Regions from separate parts of the Homo sapiens genome. Here region 1 is linked to region 2. Evidence: fine-mapped QTL for protein levels in blood plasma. A gene starts in region 2. The other region holds a variant in brackets. All regions are shown on one strand. Distances are between the middles of the regions.

The links. A credible set is the group of variants that fine-mapping cannot tell apart. PIP is the posterior inclusion probability: the model's chance that the variant is causal. Protein levels are from antibody-based Olink assays in UK Biobank. Linkage for the fine-mapping came from a reference panel and not from the study's own genotypes, which makes the PIPs less certain.
Region 1: its variant is the best candidate, but not a certain one, in a credible set for the plasma level of the CRELD1 protein (UK Biobank, PIP 0.61).

What each region holds. Positions count from the first base shown.
Region 1 is chr3:9,943,848-9,946,747 of GRCh38, reverse strand. CRELD1 (CRELD disulfide isomerase 1) reads right to left here. Exons shown (of 11, transcript NM_001077415.3): 11 at 1,342-2,383. The coding sequence ends at 2,169. It overlaps PRRT3 (proline rich transmembrane protein 3), which reads left to right. Exons shown (of 4, transcript NM_207351.5): 4 at 1-1,206. The coding sequence ends at 521. Among named protein-coding and RNA genes, the nearest start is that of PRRT3-AS1, 2.1 kb to the left of the region's middle. RefSeq lists an enhancer at 414-1,076. The variant T/C (reference allele first, on the strand shown) is at 1,734.
Region 2 is chr3:9,933,401-9,936,231 of GRCh38, reverse strand. It overlaps CRELD1 (CRELD disulfide isomerase 1), which reads right to left and starts at 2,398. Exons shown (of 11, transcript NM_001077415.3): 1 at 2,312-2,398; 2 at 1,620-1,812; 3 at 1,315-1,397. The coding sequence starts at 1,793. IL17RC (interleukin 17 receptor C) reads right to left here. Exons shown (of 19, transcript NM_153460.4): 19 at 2,611-2,831. The coding sequence ends at 2,639. RefSeq lists an enhancer at 1,987-2,356 and a silencer at 2,457-2,786.

The DNA of each region.
Region 1 (2,900 bases), 10 kb before region 2:
CCATCAACCTGAGCCGCAGCATCGACGCCGCGCTCTTCCGCGAGCACCTAGTGCGAGACAGTGTGTTCCAGCGCTGCGGCCTCCGCGGCCTGGCCTCCCCGCCGCCTGGAGGCGCTCTGCGGCCGCGCCGGGGCAGCCATCCCAAAGCCGAGCTCGACGACGCTGGCTCCTCGCTCCTCCGCGGCCGCTGCAGGTCGCTCAGCGACGTGCGCGTGCGCGGGCCGGTCCCACAGCACGTAGTGGAAGCACCCGACGGGGCAGCCGCTGCGGCTTCTGGCAGCTCCCTCGACAGCTTCTCCAGGGGTTCACTCAAGATCAGTTGGAACCCCTGGCGCCACGGGCTGTCATCAGTGGACAGTCTGCCCCTAGATGAGTTGCCCAGCACGGTACAGCTACTGCCTGCCCCGACCCCAGCCCCTGATTCTACCGCCGCTCGGCAGGGGGACGGCCAGGGAGAGGTCCAGCCGCGCGGCAAGCCTGGGGAATCCCGCAGCGCCTCCAGTGATACCATCGAGCTTTGAAGAGCGGTCCTGACGCAGGGCCAGGACCCTGCCCGATGCCCACATGGCATGGCCTACTGGGACAGTTGAGCCTTTAAAAAATGGGCATCCTGGCCAGGCGCGGTGGCTCACGCCAGGAATCCCAGCACTTTGGGAGGCCGAGGTGGGTGGAACACGAGGTCAGGAGTTCGAGATCAGCCTCCTGGTCTCGAACATAGCGAAACCCTCGTCTCTACTAAAAATACAAAAAAATTAGCCAGGTGGCACACGCCTGTAGTCCCAGCTACTCGGGAGGCTGAGGCGGGAGAATTGCTTGAACAGGGAGGCAGAGGTTGCAGTGAGCCGAGACCACGCCATTGCACTCCAGCCTGGGTGACAAGAGTGAGACTCCGTCTCAAAAAAAAAAAAAAAAAAAAAAAAAAAAAAGGCATCCCCAGGCCTCTCTACCTGACGGCAACCCCCGGGGGACAGCCAGGTTTGAACTCACCCCACCCCCATGCCGTTTTTTGCTTTTAATATTTCTATTTTTTTTTCAGCCGGCATTTTGCACAGAGGCCGTGTCTTATGCGGAATACAGGGTGGGTGTGCATGGATTCGGGCATGAAGAACAGGGAGCAGGTGCCCCAGACTCCCCAACGTGGAGTGATGAGCCTCGCTTGTCTAGATTGTCCTCTTTGTGCCAAAGAAATAAACCCTTAGGACTTGGCTCATGCTTCCCTCTGGCCATGCCAGGATCCTGTACTCATAGGAGGAAGGAGAGACTGGAGGCCCTGCCTCCCAGTCATTCTAAGTCCTGTGTATTGGACGGAGAGCAGGACTCCGAGGAAAGGTTGCTTGAGGCTTGGAGGCTCTGGTCATAATGGCGACCACACTTTTATTGAATATCTGTTGTGTACTGTCCAGGTCTTCACATTTGTCACCTCATTTAATTCTCATGTTAAGCCTGAGTGGAAAGCATTATGAAGCCCATTTGAGGAAAGAGAAGAGTGAAGTTCAGAGGCAAAAGTCATCTGTCCAGGGTCCTTTGCCAAATGACAGCTGGCATGGAACCCTCCTAAGGCTGATTCCTCTATCCTCCTTCTCCTAACAGCACTTCAGGGGCAACCTTCTCCTCTATCTTTTCTCCACTCACCATCAAAGAAGCCCTCAATTTCCCAGGATTCTAGGACATTTCCCTAAGGTGGGGGTGGTGGGACAGGTAGTAAGACTGATGCCTTTTAACTTTCCAAGACC[T/C]TTCTTTATTTCCTGAGATGAATAAATAAGTGGCAATGGGGTGTGGGGATGTGGTGAACACAGAACAGGAACTGGCAGCATGCAGCTGGCAGGAGGGAGCTGTGATGGCCCCACCCCTGTGAGGACCACCTAATCCTAAGCAGGGGCCAAAGCTCTAGCAGCCACCATTAAGGAAAAACTTTTGAAATTCACACATTGTGAAGCCTGCCAGTCCCCGCCAGGTGAAGAGCTCATGGTATCCACCTTCAGGGCTACTTTTTACCCCAGGGGCCTTGTCTGCCCGGGCCTGGGTACCTGGGCTGCTCTGTAAGGCAGGTAGGGGTGCTTACCCCACTCTCAAAAATAAACCAAGCTGTCCTGAGTGTCCAGCAGGAGGGCAGCCCAAGCTCTGGGGGCAGCGTGGGTGGGAGGAGGTCCTACAGGTGGTGGCCGCGATTATCTGCCCTTGATGAAGCCCTCCAGCACACGGTCACTGCGCTCTGACAACCAGTAGCCAGTCATGGCCGCCACAGCCCCAATGAAGATGGCGGTGAACACCAAGTCGCCCTTAGCAGCCAGCGTGGCCAGTGCACAGATGATGATGCCAAAGAACATCTGCTGCAGCACCACCAACTCGTCTTCTGTCATCTCTGAGAAGAAGCCTGCTGACTCTGCAGAGGAGCAAGAGATGCAGCCTGGCACTCGTATCCCTGTTCCTGGTAGTTCTTGGAGTCTCCCCAGAACTCCCACACACCTGATCATCATGGCCACCAGGCCTGCCCAGCAAGCCAGGCACACTACATTTACTGCTCAAAACCACCCTGCAAGGGGCAGTTACCATCCCTGTCTCACTAAATGGGAAAGTGAGGCTCAGAGAGGTAAAGGGGTTGGACTTGCCAAGGCCATGTGGTGGACAAGTTGGGGGCAGAGCATTTATTACGTGTATGAGTCTCGTTCCACGGTCAGACTGTCTGGATTGGGATCCCAGCTTTGCGACTTGCTTGCCATATAGCCCTGGGAAAGTAGCTTCATCTCTCTGCATCTTCATTTTTACATATGTAGAGTGGGGATGAGAACCCAACTTCCAGCGTCGGGTTGTTTCAGGGGTTAAATCAGTTAAGATGGGGAATGCACCTAGAACAGCATCTGACACAGTAATTGCTGGGGAAATGGTCCCTGCCATCATCG
Region 2 (2,831 bases):
AGTGGGCATCCCAGTTAAGCCTTTTCCACACTTCTATGAAATAGGCAAACCAGGTATTAATATCCCCATTTTACAGGTGAAGAAACTGTGGCTCTGAGAGGTTAAGAACCGACAACCAGGTCTAACTCTGAGCCTTTGCTGACTCCTCTTCCATCTGACTTTGAAAAGCTGGAGGGCTCAGGGCTCGCCTTTCTGTATCCTTCCCATGCCTTTCTTTACATACTGACTATATAAATGGCTTTCTGTATTACATATATTGACTATATAATGGCTTTCTGTATCCTTCCCATGGCTTTCTTTACATACTGACTATATAATGACAACTCTCAAATTCCTGTTTCCAATTCCTACTCTTTTCTGAATTCCAGATTTGTATGGAGTCTACCTGGATGTCTAATGGACATTTCAGCCCAATACGTTCAAAGAACACCACATCCCACCCCTCCCCTAAACCTTCTCGGTTTCGCATCTCACCATCTTAGAAAACAGCTGCACTACTCACCCAGTTGCTCAGGCCCAAAATCTAGTAAGCATCTTTTATTCTACTGTTTCTCTATACCCATAATGAATCTATCACCAGGTCCTATTGTTCTCTCTGCAAAATATACCCAGACTGTGACCTCTTCATCATGTCCTCCACTAGATACCACACTAGCTTGTGTTGCCTTTGTACCTAGATGATGCACTTGCCTCCCAAACTGGTCTCCCTGCTTCCTCCGCCCTTGCCCCTTACAATCCGTTTGCTACATAGCAGTGTGAGTAATCTTTAAAGGTGTAGAGAAGACAGTATCACTTTTTCTGCTCATAGCCTTCCAAGAGCTTCCCATTACACTCCAAAAAAAATCTAAACTCTTTTCTGTAGCCCTCGAGGCTTAAGCCTTTGCCTTCACCTTCTAGCACTCTCCCCTTGGCTCACTCCACTCCAGCCACTTCTCAAATACACCAAGCTCAGTCCCATCCTCTGCCCAATTCCCTCCCTGTCACATAGCTCGCTTCTTCACTTCCTGTCTCTCTGTTCAAATGCCAAACCTTGAACACCTTGCCTCCCACCGTCCTGCAGTCTACCGTGCTTCACTGTTTGTTCTTCATCTGACATAATATTATTCACTTACTCATTCACTGCTTGTCTTCTCTACTAGAATGTGAGCTCCAGGAAGGGGGCATTTTGCTTGCCTTGTTTACTGCTATACTATAGATGTTCAGTGCTATTTGTTGAATGAATAAGTGCTCCCCAAGAGTTCCTAGCCCTACACCAGCAGAGCAGAGATTTGGCGGGGAGGGGAATATACACCCCTTCCCCCAGCAGCCCCTTACCTGTCTTTGTATTTGGACAAATTCTCTTCCTCCCAGGCAGTGTTTCCACCTCCAAAGTTGTCCCGGATGGTTCTCTCCAGGCCCTGGAAACAGAAAATTAGTAATAGCTAAGTACAGTGCCTGGCACATGCTAGCACTTCACTGTTCTACTGACTAGGAAACTGAGGCACAGAAAGGCAACCTGCCTAGGGCCATACAACTAGTAAGAGACCAAGATGAAACTTAAATCCACGCAGATTTGCATCCCAGAGTTCCCCACTCTAAATCGCTGTGTTCCCCTCTAACGAGGCTGCCGGTGCACCCACCTTGTTAAAGCTGTCAACCAGTCCCCGGCAGGTATGACACGGATGGGGCTGAGGCGGGGGAGAAGACTGGGGAGGTGGAGAGGGCTGGAGCCAGATAGGTCCTGGGAGGTTGAGGAAGAGGCTGAGGCCCCAGAGCATAGCTGGGACTAGGCCCTTCGGGGGCCATGGGGCCATCTTTACCCAGGCTGGGGACCTGCAGATAGAGGGCGTGGAGAGGCTTCACTGAAGGAGTCAGGCCCCACGCGAGAAAGAAAAAGGTCTGTTCTAAGGTGCCGTGGCGCTGGGATCTGCGTTATTACAAGCAAAAGAGGCCAAACTGGGTATTGCAGGGGCTGTGGGGATGGGTGGGGAAAGGCGCATAAGATGCAATTCCAGAAGAGAAATAAGTTATCCTCGCTAGCATGGGGTGGAGAGGAAAGTGGCCTCGCTCCTTGACAAGGGGGCAGAAGTCAGCCTCTTGTCTGAGGGTCTGATAAAGAATATTAGGGGCCGGATCCGCAGAATTAGGGAGAAGAGATCAGATTCCAAGTACTGAAGGAGAGGAGGCCAGAGGGGTTGTCTTGGGGGAGGTGTCCGGAACCCCGGGCTTGGAGGGAGGAGCCCGGATCCGGATATGAAGGGAAGGGATCAGATTCAGGGCCTCGCAGAAGGGCAAAGGCACGGCCCACGAGCCGGCAGAGAAGGATCCAGACCCTCGTAGGCCACGGAGAAGGAAGAAGCGACCGCCCCAGCCCGCGGGCGCCGTGGGCCGTCTCCTCACCGCGTCGCTGCCACAGCCTGCGTAAAACGCACAACCCCCACCCGCGCCGCAGTCCAGGGGGCGGAGCTTGCCGCCCAGCCAATGGCGACGGGCCATGTGCCATTACGTCACCCCACGCCAGCCAACCAGAGGCGGCACCGAGCTGCACCTGTCCGGGCTTTAAAGGGCCGCGGGGCTAGGGAATGACGTTTGCCAGCCCCGCCACTGAAACGGAGACGCGTGTGGGCCACATGGGTAGAAAAACAGCGTCTGCCTTTATTTAAGTCCCGTCCCCCGCCCCAGGTCCCGCGCCTGGTCCCACCCCGCGTCCCGGCGCGGGAGTCCCCGGGGGATGGAAGTAGCTATCCAGGGCTGGCTGAAGGGCCCGGGACACTTGCTCCGCTCTCTCTTGGAGCCGCCCGGAACGCGGGGCGCGAGGCTGCTGCAGGGCCCCCAGGAAGTCTGGCAGTTGG